2 separate regions of the Homo sapiens genome follow, and region 2 is linked to region 1. Evidence: fine-mapped expression QTL. Tissue or cell type: lymphoblastoid cells. Region 1 holds a variant in brackets; the other region holds the start of a gene. All regions are shown on one strand. Distances are from middle to middle.

Region 1 (8,275 bases):
TCATCAGTTCACTCCATGAAATGAAAACTTACGGGGATCCACTTTTGCTCTTTTTTGAAGAAGTCTATTGTCCTCAAAGGAAGAGGTGGACCTGTTCAGATTTTTAAGTTTTATCTTATTCAGTGTTTGTAGCATCAAGGGACTGGCCTCTAACGGAAGCAACTGGGGGCTTCATTGGCTTATGCAATCAGTCTCATCTCACTGACTTTACAAGGTTCTTCAATACTGGCAGAAAATCTCTTGGCTAGCTCTTTCTCCCTCCTTAAAATATGTTGGCTCTTTACTATAAAAACAATCATAGCAGCACATACCAGAATCTCCTAGGGAAACCCCCAAAGACTTGGGCCTTGTCTCAGCTCTCAGACACTACCACCAAGAGCACTGCATAGCTTTCCCAGGACCAACTGGAAAGAATTCTTTTTTACGACGATGTAATTGACAATGAAAATTGTATATGTTTACAGTATACAATGTGGTGTTTTGATATATGTGTACATTGATTTTTGTGGCAGTCAGGAGGTCCTCTAGTTGGAACAGAGACTCACCACACCCAAGAGTCCCTCTGTCTGTATCCCATCCCCAAATCAGAAAAAGGCCTGTGCGTCTCTGTGGGTAGTATTCACTCTCTCAGATTCCTCTGTGAGTCAGGAACATGACAAGTGGCATCTATATACACAGTTTTAAGAGGAAGTGATGTCACTCTTGGTGTATAGAAGTGAGAAGAGGAGTAATGAGAATTAAAGACCCAGATCACAGGAGAATTTAAGCCATACTTAGAAGTTTGGAGTTCAGTTGATGGTGGGGGGTCCAGTGACATAGCTTTGAATGGGGTGATGACATTATCAGGACATATGTTGGCAGAATGTCCTTTTCAAAGCCAACAAAGTCCAAACTAGGATCTCATTCTTTCCCTCCTGAAGTCACCTGGGGAATTGAATTGATAATAATGATACAGGATGACTGATTGATAGTTCTTTATTCCCAGAAACATCACCTAAGTATACACTAGTTACCTTCCACTGCTGGGAGAGACAACAAGGAAGAGTCACAGTAAGTCCCTACCTGTTAATAATAAACCAATGGCCAGGCCCAGTGGCTCATGCCTGTAATCCCAGTACTTTGGGAGGCCAAGGTGGGAAGATCACTTGAGCCCAAGAGTTCAAAACCAGCCTGGGCAACATAGCAAGACCTCACCTCTACAAAATAATAATAATAATAATAATAAAACAGGGCAGTAAGATTAATGTGGAGCCAAATTTACCTTTCCAGAGTAGTTTAATGAATTTTTGAGATACAGTTACTATCTTTTAGAAGAGATATGTTTGAGATAATCTGGTTAAGGTATATTGACTTGTCTAAAGTCACACAGGAAATTAGTGCTGTAATTTAGATAATTCGTATCTTTAGCTGTGTAGATAAGAAGGGCCAGTTAAATAACATGAGAAAGATGAAGAATGCCTCCTTCCTTTCTCCTAGTAGACCTCAGTCTGCTTTCCTGTTGATTTCTTTGTGTTACAGGCTTTAATGTTTTTTGAGAAAAGCCATTTTAAGTTAACTGCTGAATTAGTTTTAGACATAGATTGACTAATCATTTCATTAGTGAGTACTTAGCAGTGTTCTACCTCCCTTAACCTCCTTTTTCCGGTTACCTGGTAGGAAGATAATGTTGCTTTGCTTCATCTCCATTGGTAATCACAGCAGTCTGTCTAATTGCTATGTCTGTTCTATCATTGAGCTCCTGGATTAAATTGGTTCAGCGGGCTTGTATTTTGGTTGAGTATATAAGTGGCTGCTTTCTTCTGCTAGAATCTCCAAACCTCCATCTTTATCTTTCATACTTTGATATATTATATAAGTATGGGGGGAGTAAAAAGCAGCACCAGGATATCAAAATGGTAGGAAGAGAGATTAATGGGACTCCGTATAAGGAAGGCCTCTCTAATAGTGGGTGCCGTCTAATAGACAAACCAACTACCTTTTGAAATGGTACGTAACTGACTCAGCATTGGACAAGCCAGGTGATCACCCCTAGAAGGAGGGTGCATTCAGTGAGAGGCTGGACCTAAGAGGATTTCTAAAGTCCTTTCCACCTCTGATTTTCTAATTTTAAATTTCTTGGTGTAGGATTTACCTTTATTCTCTAACCAGTCTCAGACATGTTTTAATTTTCTTTGTCTCAGACATTTTTAAGCTTAACTTATGCTCTTTTTTCAACAGTACAAATGTGGACAGTGTTTCTTTTTGACAAACGGAAACAACATTCTTGCAAGATGGCCCAGATGGAAAGGGACTTGTCTTGCAAGTGTTCTGAAAGCAGAGGTTGATTGCATAAGCCTTTATTTTGGTCTCATGGTTCCTTAAAATGTTTGTACTTACAGAAGTTCAAAGTTACTGTTTATTGTTATTTTGGAATAAGGAACTTGATGAACTCTCTTTTGTGTGGATGAAAACATAGAGGTAAACATACCTCTCAGCAGCCCTACACAATTTTTCCAAGATCCCACTGGTGTTTCTGTGTATTCTTCCTTTTCAGTGAATCAGAGAATGGAGGGATATAATGAGTGGAACTGAGGTAACTGGCACTAGATTTGTTCTTAAAACAAATACTGCTGCTTTTTTTACTTTGACTTCCAAATTTTGGGTCAGAGTTAATGACAAGTTATGTCACGTAGAATTAATCTCTTATAAAATCTGAGTTTGTTGATTTAGGTTTTTCCTTATATGTATGTTGCATTTAACCAGTTTTCAGTGCCTGGTATAGGCTCCATGAACCAAATTTGATTCCGTGTTTTAGGTTCCTCAAGACCTAACATCTTCATAGATTGTTTGTTTCATTTTACGTTTTCAGAACCATTGAACGGTAAGCAGGAAGGGACCTAAAAATTACTGCAAATCATCTACTGTAGTAGTAGGACTGTAGTAGTAGAAAGAACTGTAGGGCTCATTGTTCACCCAATTCACCACATGGGGATCATTTCTCTACCATCCCTGAGAACTGATTACCAAACCTCTGTTTGAACACTGCACTAACTGAGATTTTACAATTTCTGGATATGCTGCATTGGTTTTTACACAACCTTAATTGTTAGAAAATTTTTCTCTAGAGTGTGCTAAAATCAACTTCTACTCCTTGGTGCCAGTTCTGCTTTTGAAGCCTTTCCAAAGTAACCTAATCCGTTTTCTGTGTTACAGCTATCCTTTAAGGCATTTGAAAACTTCTCCCTTCATTTTGCAAAACAGGAAAAATATATACATTTATGTTGCTTATTGACGAATTCATTTAACACACATTTATTGTGTACCATCTTCTGTTTGCTAGCATTGTGTCAAGTGTTTGTGATAAATGATGAAGGAACATGGTCATTGCCTTCCAGAGCTCATAGTCTATTTAGGACAAGAGAGACCTGTAAGCAACTCGAACAAGATATTAAGTATTAGAAGAACAAAGCATACCCTGGGCTATTAGCAATAGAGAAAGTTAGGGTTTATTCCATTGGAGGGCATCACAGATGAACTGGATTTTTAAGTTTGTCAAGCAGGGAATGAGGGAGAAAGCCATTCCAGGTAGAAAGAATGGTGTAGTCAAAGAGATTTGAGTGTGCTGCATATTTCACAATTATGACTTCCTCAGCATGTGTAAAGTACAAGGCTCTCAACAGACTTTATATATTATGTTAAGGAGTTTCAACTTACCCTGCAGCCAGTAAGGAGCCCTGGATGCTTACGTTGTTTTGTTTTTACGATATCTGTACTGGTTTTTCCCATTGCAAAATTAATAGAAAGCTCATTGCAAACAATTCAGAGAGGATATATAGAGAAGAAAATAGATGTTTCATTATCCCATTATCCCGATATAGTAATAATTTACATATAGTCTTCTAGATTTTTTTTCTGTGCATACGCGTACATTTATTTATTTATTTATTTTTTGACAAGGTCTCACTCTGTTCCCTAGGATGAAGTGCCATGGTGCAATCATAGCTCATTGCAGCCTTTGAATCCTTGGGCTCAAGCAGTACTCCCGCTCAGCCTCCCAAGTAGCTAGGACTACAGAGGCATATCACCACACCGAGCTCATTTATTCATATTTTAAAAAAAATGGAATTGTTTCATGTGTACTCTTTTAATACTGGATTTTTAAAATTACTATATCATGGAGATACTTTTATATGAAATAGAGGCTCCAAAATTTTTCCCCGTTAAATGGTGATACCATAATTCCTTAATGTAACCTATTAATGTTTCTAATTTTCATAAAGATGTAATAATGAACATTCTTAACGTATTTCTTTGTGTACTTGACCTGTTTTTTCCCTGATGAATTCTTACAAGTGGGGTCAAAGGATTTACTTAGTTCTTTTGTTTTTTTGAGATAGGGTGTCAATATGTTGCCCAGGCTGGCCTCAAACTCCTGGGCTCAAGTGATCCTCCAACCTCAGCCTCCTGAATAGCTGGGACTACAGACATGTGCCACTGCACCTAGAATACTTAGTTTTAATTAATCTTTAAGCAAATGTTGCTTCCCTGCTATGTTCAAGGAACCATGCTATGCCGTGAGTATATGATAGTGAATGTTACAGGTCTGGTGACAGCTCTTGTGGCACACATAGTTAAGCGGGAAAGACATCTTAAACAATCAAATAATTAGATAGTAACAAAATATGGTATGATTTAGAAAAAGTAAAGGGTGGCCAGGCACAGTGGCTCACTCCTGTAATCTCAGTGCTTTGGGAGGCCAAAGTAGGAAAATCACTTGAGGCCAGGAGTTCAAGACCAGCCTGAGCAACATAGTGAGACCCTGTCTCTTTTTTATTTCATTGATTTATTTTTATTTTTATTTTTTTCAGACAGAGCCTTGCTCTGTTGCCCAGGCTGGAGTGCAGTGG[T/C]GGGATCTCGGCCCACTGCAACCTCCGCCTCCTGGGCTCACGTGATTCTCCTGCCTTAGCCTCCCAAGTAGCTGGGACTACAGGCATGTGCCACTACGTGTGGCTATTTTTTTTTTTTTTTTTTTTTGTATTTTTAGTAGAGATGGGGTTTCACCATGTTGGCCAGGCTTGTCTCAAACTCCTGACCTCAGGTCATCTGTCCACCTCTGCCTCCCAAAGTGTTGGGATTACAGGCGTGAGCCACCGTGCCTGGCCCATTTCTTTTTTTTTTCTTTTCTTTCTTTCTCTTTTTTTTTTTTCCTGACTCTTAACACCACTCAATGACCCATCTTTACAAAAATAAAAAATTCAGCTGAGCGTGGTGGCTCATGCATCTAGTCCCAGCTACTTGGGAGACTGAGGTGGGAGGATTGCCTGAGCCTGACAGCCCAAGGCTGCTGTGAGCTATGATCGCACCACTGCACTCCAGCCTGGGTGAGAGAGTAAGACCCTGTCTCAAAAAAAAAAAAAGAAAAGAAAAGAAAGAGTGAAAAAAAGAGTAAAGGGTAAATGAAAGTTCATAACCTTTAAAAAAAAAGTCCTTATCTTTTAGAGATATATGCTGAAGTATATACAGATGAAATGGTATGATATTTAGGATTTGCTTCAGAATAATCCAGGTTGGAGTTGAGGGGCAGTGGGTGGGAGTATAGCTGAAACAAAATTGGCTAGGAGTTGATAATTGCTGAAGCTCATGGTTAATTATGCTCTGCTTTCGTTTGTTTGAAATTTTCTGTAAGGTAAAAACCAAAAGAAAGGGTAGAAGAGATGTTACAGTCGGGTTTAGACTGGGGAGCCAAGGAAAGACTCCTTTGAGGAAGAAACATTTCAGCTGAGACCCTTGTGATGTATAGGAGTTGGCCAGGCTGCAAGTGGCATTTGGCAGTTAGGGAAAGAGTTTTTTTAGGCAGCAGGAGCAGCATGTACAAAGTCCAGCAAGCCCTGAGGAAGGAACATGTTGGTCCCTTGAGGAAATGAAAGAAGGCTGCTACCATAGGAATTGAGAGGCTGCGGAAGGAGGCATGGGCTAGACCTTTAAGACCTTGGAAACTATGTTAAGGATTTTGTTATTTAATCCAATAGTAATAGAAGAATTTTAAGCAGCACAATGTGGCTTTGCTTCTTTAAGAGCTCAAGTTGGCTGTTTGGTGGAGAATGGTTTTGGTTTGGGCTCAAGGGAGAAGAGAATGTAAAAGTGGAGAGAGAGCTATTAGGAGGTTATTGCAGTGGTCCGAAAGAGTCTGGTGGCTTTAGATTACAGAAATAGTGATACAGATGGAGAGAAGAGATACTGATTTGACAGATATTTTTGTCTTGGTGATGTGGGGGCTGAAGGAGAGAGGTTTCATGATGCATAATTTTCTGACTGACGCAATGGAATGGATGGAGGTGTAGTTGACTAAGATGAAGAAAAAAGGAAGAGATTTTGTAGCAAGAGATTGAGAGCTTAGTTTGGAATATGCTATTCAGAAAATGTGCACCAATTTACATATTTACCTTTGTGTATGAGACTACATGGAAGGTTTATATTTAGAGGTGTGATCTGTACAGATTTGTGTTTTAGAAAGATTATTCTGGTGGTGGGATTCTGGAGACTAATTGCTTGTTAGTCTGTGAGCTTTTTGAATTGAGGAATCTCATCCTTATTTTCTCTGCCTTTGTATCCCCAGTACTTAGCAGGCAAATTGCTTGGCACATAGGTACACAATAAATAATGTTAAGAGAACCAATGCTGGTTGGGCGCGGTGGCTCACACCTGTAATCCCAGCACTCTGGGAGGCCGAGAAGGGCGGATCACTAGGTCAGGAGATCGAGACCATCCTGGCTACCAAGGTGAAACCCCGTCTCTACTAAAAATACAAAAACAAAATTAGCCGGGCGTGATCGCGGGCGCCTGTAGTCTCAGCTACTCGGGAGGCTGAGGCAGGAGAATGGCGTGAACTCGGGAGGCGGAACTTGCAGTGAGCCGAGATCGCGCCACTGCACTCCAGCCTGGGTGACAGAGCGAGATTCCGTCTCAAAACAAACAAACACACACAAAAAAGAACGAATGCTTATAGGTGAGACATGAGGTCTAGGTAGAAATGGATAGATTCTGGAAAAGTTTCCAAGATAGATTCCACAGGATTTGGATGGAAGATGGGAAAGTTCTCTCCCTTCGCGTAGCCTGCCCGTTGAACTTTTTGACAGGTCCGTTATGCCAGCAGGTCTAAATATAGGTAGCCATCAATTTATCAATGTTTTTTCCTCCTCAATATTTATTTGTTTGGAACTCCATAGATTAGAACTCAATGATATAATTATTATAATATTAGTAGTAGCTTGAAGTCCTCCATCACGCTAGTTCCCCTTTTCTGTCTGCTGAGTTGTCAATCCCAGAGCCCCTCTAATCCTGGCAGCTTTGGTGGTGGGGGAAGTTTCAGCAGCAAGAGGAATTTGCAGCAGTAGTTACTCCGTATGTAGAAGCTGTCCAGATGTTGAATATAAGTTGGATATTACGTATATGCTTTTCATTTTACAAATGGAGACATAAGCCCTAGAGAAACTTGTCAAAATACATGCAACAGGTCCGTGTAAACCCAGATTTTTCCGATACTGAACTGGTACTTAGGACAGTTGATTTCTTGACTGATCAACCAAATCCATCTCCATCTACTTTTTTCATTTTCCCTGATCCCTTATTGCAGAGTGATTCTATGTTAGTTTTAGTATTGCTTGATGCTGCCCACGCCTGCTCTTAGGCTCCTGTTGAATATGTGCACTTATGTGTGACCTTGTTCTTGTGTTGTGCCGATCACTACCAGTTTACATCACTTGTCTATCCTCTTTGCTTTCAAAATTGTTTGGCATATTGCCTCTCAGCATTTCTTTTCATTTTAAATTTCAAAATGGCATCTTTTATATTTTTTTCCTTGATTGCCATGACCAATGTGTATTAAACAATTGGTTTATCTCTTTTTATTGATACATAATAGATGTACATGTTTTCAGGGTACAAGTGATATTTTGATACATTCACATAATGTGTAATAACCAAATCATGATAATGCTATATCCGTCACCTTAGACATTTATCTTTTCTTTATGCTGGGAATATTTGAATTATTCTCTTCTACCTATTTTGAGATATATGGTAGATTATTATTTACTATAGTCACTGTACTGATTTATTGAACACTAGATCTTATTTCTTCTAACTGTATTTTTGTATTTTTGTTTTTTTTTTGAGACAAGGTCTCGCTGTCATCTAGGCTGGAGTGCAGTGGTGTGATCTCGGCTCATTGCAACCTCTGACTCCTGGATTCAAGCAATTCTCCTGCCTCAGCCTCCCCAGTAGCTGGGATTACAGG
Region 2 (8,275 bases), 26 kb before region 1:
CTCAATAAATTAGGTATTGATGGGACGTATTTCAAAATAATAAGAGCTATCTATGACAAACCCATAGCCAATATCATACTGAATGGGCAAAAACTGGAAGCATTCCCTTTGAAAACTGGCACAAGACAGGGATGCCCTCTCTCACCACTCCTATTCAACATAGTGTTGGAAGTTCTGGCCAGGGCAATTAGGCAGGAGAAGGAAATAAAGGGTATTCAATTAGGAAAAGAGGAAGTCAAATTGTCCCTGTTTGCAGATGACATGATTGTATATCTAGAAAACCCCATTGTCTCAGCCCAAAATCTCCTTAAGCTGATAAGCAACTTCAGCAAAGTCTCAGGATACAAAATCAATGTACAAAAATCACAAGCATTCTTATACACCAACAACAGACAAACAGAGAGCCAAATCATGAGTGAACTCCCATTCACAATTGCTTCAAAGAGAATAAAATACCTAGGAATCCAACTTACAAGGGATGTGAAGGACCTCTTCAAGGAGAACTACAAACCACTGCTCAAGGAAATAAAAGAGGATACAAACAAATGGAAGAACATTCCATGCTCATGGGTAGGAAGAATCAATATTGTGAAAATGGCCATACTGCCCAAGGTAATTTACAGATTCAATGCCATCCCCATCAAGCTACCAATGACTTTCTTCACAGAATTGGAAAAAACTACTTTAAAGTTCATATGGAACCAAAAAAGAGCCCACATCGCCAAGTCAATCCTAAGCCAAAAGAACAAAGCTGGAGGCATCACACTACCTGACTTCAAACTTTACTACAAGGCTACAATAACCAAAACAGCATGGTACTGGTACCAAAACAGAGATATAGATCAATGGAACAGAACAGAGCCCTCAGAAATAACGCCGCATACCTACAACTGTCTGATCTTTGACAAACCTGAGAAAAACAAGAAATGGGGAAAGGATTCCCTATTTAATAAATGGTGCTGGGAAAACTGGCTAGCCATATGTAGAAAGCTGAAACTGGATCCCTTCCTTACACCTTATACAAAAATCAATTCAAGATGGATTAAAGATTTAAACGTTAGACCTAAAACCATAAAAACCCTAGAAGAAAACCTAGGCATTACCATTCAGAACATAGGCATGGGCAAGGACTTCATGTCCAAAACACCAAAAGCAATGGCAACAAAAGACAAAATTGACAAATGGGATCTAATTAAACTAAAGAGCTTCTGCACAGCAAAAGAAACTACCATCAGAGTGAACAGGCAACCTACAAAATGGGAGAAAATTTTCGCAACCTACTCATCTGACAAAGGGCTAATATCCAGAATCTACAATGAACTCAACCAAATTTACAAGAAAAAAACAAACAACCCCATCAAAAAGTGGGCAAAGGACATGAACAGACACTTCTCAAAAGAAGACATTTATGCAGCCAAAAAACACATGAAAAAATGCTCATCATCACTGGCCATCAGAGAAATGCAAATCAAAACCACAATGAGATACCATCTCACACCAGTTAGAATGGCAATCATTAAAAAGTCAGGAAACAACAGGTGCTGGAGAGGATGTGGAGAAATAGGAACACTTTTACATTGTTGGTGGGACTGTAAACTAGTTCAACCATTGTGGAAGTCAGTGTGGCGATTCCTCAGGGATCTAGAACTAGAAATACCATTTGACCCAGCCATCCCATTACTGGGTATATACCCAAATGACTATAAATCATGCTGCTATAAAGACACATGCACACGTATGTTTATTGCGGCATTATTCACAATAGCAAAGACTTGGAACCAACCCAAATGTCCAACAATGATAGACTGGATTAAGAAAATGTGGCACATATACACCATGGAATACTATGCAGCCATAAAAAATGATGAGTTCATGTCCTTTGTAGGGACATGGATGAAATTGGAAATCATCATTCTTAGTAAACTATCACAAGAACAAAAAACCAAACACCGCATATTCTCACTCATAGGTGGGAATTGAACAATGAGATCACATGGACACAGGAAGGGGAATATCACACTCTGGGGACTGTGGTGGGGTAGGGGGAGGGGGGAGGGATAGCATTGGGAGATATACCTAATGCTAGATGACGAGTTAGTGGGTGCAGCGCACCAGCATGGCACATGTATACATATGTAACTAACCTGCACAATGTGCACATGTACCCTAAAACTTAAAGTATAATAAAAAAAAAAAAAAAAGAAAAGAAAATTCTATAACTGGCCAGGCGCGGTGGCTCATGCCAGTAATCCTAGTACTTTGGGAGGCTGAGGTGGGCGGGTCACGAGGTCAGGAGATTGAGACCATCCTGGCTAACAGGGTGAAACCCTGCCTCTATTAAAATACAAAAAATTAGCCAGGAGTGGTGGCACGTGCCTGTAGTCCTAGCTACTTGGGAGGCTGAGGCAGGAGAATTGCTTGAACCTGGGAGGCGGAGGTTGCAGTGAGCCGAGATCGCACCACTGCACTCCAGCCTGGCGACAGAGCGAGACTCGGTCTCAAAAAAAAAAATTTTATAACTAATGTGGAAACAGTTTTATGATAAGATAACATGTGCATGATGGAACAGAGTGAACATTTTTGCAAGACTAGTCAAAGCAAAATTCAAGACTTCAAAAAAAAAAATGTGTACTTGGGAGGAGCAGTTTGCTTTGTTTATATCCTCAGACCCTGGGCTATGCACTCACTTTACTCTGCTATTAGTAATGATAATAAAAAGAGCTAATACTTGATGTATCTGCTAGGATAGGCTAGCTTATACAGTGGTAAACAAACAAAACTCAATGGCAACACAATGCTTATTTCTTGCTTATGCTAAGTTATCCTCTATGGGCTGGCAGAGAGCTCTTGTTTATCAGCTACACAGAAATCCAGGCTAATAGAGCAACCAACATCTTCAGCATCAATAGTTGCCATGCCAGAGGGAAAGAGAAGCACAAGAGGCTCAAAGCAACAAATAAATGCTTCAGAGACAAAGTAATCCATCCTTTCTGCTCAAACTCATTGGTCTTTCCCAATCACTTGAAGGCCAGGAAATAAAATCCTACCATGTGCTCAGAAGGCAAAACGCCAGAAATATTTAGTGAAGAGCGCTAATTGTCTATCATTCACTATCTACCAAGGGCTGTTCTAATTATATTACAGGCATTATCTCAGCTAAGCCTCATAATAATCTTGTGAAATAGGTACTATTAATGTTATCATCATTCCCATTCTATAGATGAAATAACTGAGGCACCAAGAGGCTAAGTAACCTGCTCAAAGTCACACAGATAATAGGTGGTAAAAGCTGAAGATTTAAACTTAAGCATTCTTGCCCCAGAGTCTGTGTGCTTAACCACAAAGCCATGAGATCTCTCACTAGGTGGGAACAATTTGAGAAACACTGCCATAGGCAATGGAGAGCCACTAAAGGATTTTTTAAGCAGGAAGTGTGAGTCCATCAGAATTGGCATTTAAAAGCTCCCTCTAGAGAGCACGGTGAAGGATTAATTTAACCAGATTTAGACTAAGGCAGGAAGGCTATTTGCAGAGTGAGGAGATGAAGATGGGGAGGGCTTGAACTAAGGTACAATCACCACTCACCGCAATTAACTGGGTTTTGTTGTTGTTGTTGTTGTTTGAGACAGGGTAACGGGGTACATTGGGGGTTGGAGGGGTGGTTCTTACTGTGTTGCCCAGGCTGGATTCCAACTCCTGGGCTCAAGTGATGCTCTGGCTCTGGCATCCTGAGTAGCTAGGACTACAGGTATGTGCCACCACACCCAGTAACTAGTTAATCTTGACTGTCTATTTCAACTGAAAAATGGTTATGGTAATACCTACTTGGATGGGTTTTCTGAGGAAAAACACCCCAATGAACTTGTGTGTTTTTAAAAGTCAAGTCCCCTAGGCATGGCTAGAAGGGAAGAGGCTTAGCCAGAAAATTTAATTGTTGTGATTAATAAAGTAATAGAAATGTTTAGTTTTCCTCTGATGAGATGAAAGCTTTGAGGGGATCCTGGTCTTGGGAGAAAGTAAAGAAATGGAGGAGAGGGTTTCACCAGAGTTTAGATAACTCTTAGCATCTGCTTACTATCTTCCCTGATTAATTATTTCCATGGCAGCCAGAGTGACCTTTTAAAACCACAAATCGGATCATGCTGTTTCCCTCTCCCCTAGTACAGTGCCTGATACTTAGAAATTTCTCAGTAACATCGTGCTCAGTGAATGAATGAATGAATGAGTGAATGAAAACACAAGCCAGATGGCAGGTGGATCCCTAAGGAAAAGGACAGCCAATGAGAAATTATCTGTAGCAACGGTGGCTTTGGATGATGATGTTTAATAATCATTTTTAAGGAGTTGCCTGTTGTGTGCTATGCTTTAATCACTGTCCCCCACCCTTCCCAAATAACGTTCAGTAAAAGTCTGCCACAAAAAACTCGCTGTTTTGTGAGAATTTAAGAAATGGAAGAAGAAACAAACTGTCTGGGCACCAGGCCAAACAATATCCAAAAAGGCAGGAGTCACAGAGGAGAGCTAATGAGTATTAGTGGGAGCAGGTATTCCAAGTGAGAGGTGACCAGAGTCCTCTGAAAATGTGGGGAGGGGGTGACGTTCCTATATCCTGGGTTAGGGGCTTGGACTCTTATATTTGGCTGTTGGAAAAAACAAGCTGGAGGACTTTGGGGTATCAACAACCCTCAGGTTACATAAGGATGATCATAGGGTCGTTGTGAGGATTATGTTGGGATAGTTCATGCAAAGCGCTTAACACAGTGCCTAGCGCATAGTAAGAGCTCAGTAAATGTTAGTTGTTGTCTTCCTTCACTTTCTTCCATTCCCTCCACTCCCTTTCTACCAGGCTCCATTCATTCTCTTCCAAGGACACGCAGGGGGCGTGCCCACCCCTTCCCTCCGCCCCCACCCAAGGCCCGCCCCCCGCTTCTCCACGGATTGGTTCCCGAGAGGCGGAGCTGAAGGAAGAGCCCAGTGCGGCGCGGTGGGGGCGGGGCGCATGCGCGAGCTGGGCAGGGTGGAGGTGGGGAGGAAGAGCTGCCGGAAGTAGGCGGTGGAGGTGGTAGCGGAGCTGACGGCAGCTGCCAGGGAAACCGAGGCGCGGGACGCAAGGCCAGCAGACAGGCCGGCCAGAGGGTCATCTGCGTCCGGCACCCAGGAGGCTCGTGGTCCGCCTTTGCCTGGGCTGAGGGTCTCTGGCCCCGCAGCCTCTCTTGGAGGCGGGCCTGTCCCTAAGCCCGCCAAGGGGCGCCGCGCCGAGGGGCTGCGGAGTGGGGGACGGACGCCCCCGACCCGGGAAGGGGCGTCCGGCGGGGCCGGAGGAGAGGGCTCTCCCCGCTCAGGAGGTGCCCCTGGGCGGGGGACCGGGAGTCCTCAACCCCGGACTGAGGCAGGGGTCTCTGGGGGCGAGGAGGGCGCGTCGCCCTCTGCCCCCGCCGGCACCCTGGCCATGACAGGCAAGTCGGTGAAGGACGTGGATCGGTACCAGGCTGTCCTGGCCAACCTGCTGCTGGAGGAGGATAACAAGTTTTGTGCAGATTGCCAGTCTAAAGGTAGCGCATCCCACCTGGCGGGCCAGGGGTCCAGCCGCGCCGGGGTGGTGGGGGTGGGCTGCGTGAAGAGGCGGTTTCTGAAGCTTAGGCCGCCCAACTCGGCTTATAAGTGGTAACGCGTGCTGCGCTTGCAGTGAGCCTACTGGGCTTTCTGCAGCTGGGGGATTGGTATGGGTAGAGCTTGCGAGGGCGAGTCTGTGTGTGTCGGGGAGGGTGGAGGTGATGGTGCGGGTGGAAGTTGCCTGGCGTGTTCAGGTGAGAATGTCTGTATTTGAGGGCTCTGAATGAGTTCTGGGCCGGCTGTCCAGAGAGAGCTCCCAGCATGTCACTTGCAAAGCTGGGGATGAACTGCATTGCGTGCGTGCGTGCGTGCGTGTGTGTGTGTGTGTGTGTGTGTGTGTGAGAGAGAGAGAGAGAGAATGACGAGGAGGAGGAGGAGGGAAGTGAGATGGCGGAAAGGAAAACTGCTTAAATGATTTTTAAAGGTGGTGATTTTTGCTTCCTGCTATTTGGTTAGCAACTCCTGTCATTTTGCAGCCTTGCTAAGATCTGACAAGAGTGCTTAGGTGACTTTATTCTTCTGGATGTGTGCAGTGGGAAACTGCCTTATGCAGTGACACAGTGCGGATTTCTAGGCAGTGTAGCCCTGGCTTGTAGAGTGCGTTGGAGGCCTATGTATGAGTGGTGGCAGAAACTAGCCGATTATGCCTGTAGTGCAGGATCCGTTTAATCAGTGGAGAGAGAAAGATGAATTCGATGAATTCATTGCTTCCATGGCGATTACACTTCTAAAGGTGAAATATGATCATTGTAAATTGGCAGAACCATTTAGTCTTTGTTTTCTGTGCCCTAGAAGATTCATGATTTGATACAATTAAAAGTCAGTACAATAGGAAATCTTGGTTATTAGTGAAATGTTGGCACTTGACATTTATACAAGCTTCTATGAATCTTTTTTTCCTGTATTTTCTAATTCTTTTGGCATATAATTGGAGGATTGGGAAAATTATTTTCCCTTTGGTTGGGTCGAAATGGATAGTTATATTTTGGGGGCGACAATTTACTTTTGTTCATAATGCAGTGGATTTGCCATGGTTGTTTGCCGTACAGCGTAGTGGGCATATACTATAAAACAAAGATTCAGTTATATTCGTATTTATCTATTTTGAGAAAGGAAGGACATATTTAATTGATGCTTTCACTTAATTACCTTTTATTTTTGAAGAATAAGGTTATAAAAGGAGAACAGGGGAGGGATACATAGACACCTAGTAATGTATTTTAGTGACCTCTACCAACAGATAAATGGAATGTGCCATTAGGAAAACAAATTCCTAGACTTCTTTCCTGAATTTTTGCATTAGCAATAATTCATTTTAAAAAGTATTTTAGAATCAATTTATGTTGAGTAGGTTAGCTTCTTGATTCTTGTTACATCTTCTGTTAGGTCTATTGGAAGATTTGGTTTATTTTAGGAGTGTATCTTGGCTTTATTCAAATTCCCTTATGTCCTCATTTGACAGATCTTGAGTCACAGTGAAGCAACCCACTGGAGTGAGCATTGCTGCATTTGGAGAGTCAGATGCCATTTTGGTGACTAGAACCCCCCCCCCCATTTCTCATATTACCCTTATACTTACTCATATTCCAATAAAATACAGCACATGGAAGAGAGAGGCTGATTCACTACTTCTTCCTCCAAATTTCCATTGCTTTTTATTTATTTTATTTTTTATTTTTATTTTTTGAGACAGTTTCGCTTTGTCGCCCAGGCTGGAGTGCAATGGTGCAATCTCGGCTCACTGCAACCTCTGCCTCCCGGGTTCAAGTGATTCTCCTGCCTCAGCCTCCCGAGTACCTGGGATTACAGGCGCCCGCCACCATGCCCAGCTGATTTTTGTATTTTTAGTAGAGACAGGGTTTCACCATGTTGGCCAGGCTGGTCTTGAACTCCTGACCTCAGGTGATCCACCCGCCTCAGCCTTCCAAAGTGCTGGGATTACAGGTGTGAGCCACCATGCCCAGCCCGAAATTTCCGTTGCTTTTTATTAATAAGCTTACTGGGGATCAGGTTATGAAATATCAGTTAATTCTTAATGAGAACTAGTAACTGCTGGCTTGTAAACTTTATTAACTACTGTTGATGGTAGAATCCTGGATCCTCAATTTCTTTTCAGAAGTTCGTTTTACATTTTACCAGGTGGCTTCAGGGACTTGGTCATTGTATTAAAAATGAGATGACAATGGGTCAGTCATCTTTAGATTATGACAAATAGGCATTTGTTGAGGCCTCTGTTTATCCAATTTATGAATTACCTATCCCATTCCACCCCTCCAAGCCCTCTCACTCTTTTTCCCCTGCTGTTTTCTAATTTTGGTTGTCATAATGATCATTTGGACAACTATCAGATTGTTGAAGGAAAAGACGTTTGGATCAATAAATTGTTACCTGTTAGCGCTGATAAAAAATACATTTCATTGGAGGAGGAATTTAAAAAGTGTTGGCTAAAATGAGAATTGGGTTTCAGTTTATTTACCTGTATTCCTGTGTCCTTTCCTAAAAAATTGGAAGTTAACTGTACAGGATATGGTGAGTGATTGCTCATCTATTAATATCCAGTTAGATGATGTGGCATAGACTATCGACCTATGAGCAGGTATTTTTGCAATGTTCCAAAATATAACTCTTTGGCAATGACTTTTATTTTTAAATTCTTATACTT

What was found. PIP is the estimated chance that this variant, and not a neighbour inherited with it, causes the effect.
Region 2: it holds the start of SMAP2, and the variant in region 1 is fine-mapped to the expression of SMAP2 in lymphoblastoid cells (TwinsUK, PIP 0.95).

What each region holds. Positions count from the first base shown.
Region 1 is chr1:40,394,319-40,402,593 of GRCh38, forward strand. All of the region lies in intron 1 of SMAP2 (small ArfGAP2), which reads left to right. Among named protein-coding and RNA genes, the nearest start is that of SMAP2, 25 kb to the left of the region's middle. The variant T/C (reference allele first, on the strand shown) is at 4,887.
Region 2 is chr1:40,368,672-40,376,946 of GRCh38, forward strand. SMAP2 (small ArfGAP2) reads left to right here and starts at 5,056. Exons shown (of 10, transcript NM_022733.3): 1 at 5,056-5,552. The coding sequence starts at 5,450. RefSeq lists silencers at 4,799-5,118, 5,189-5,328 and an enhancer at 5,314-5,813.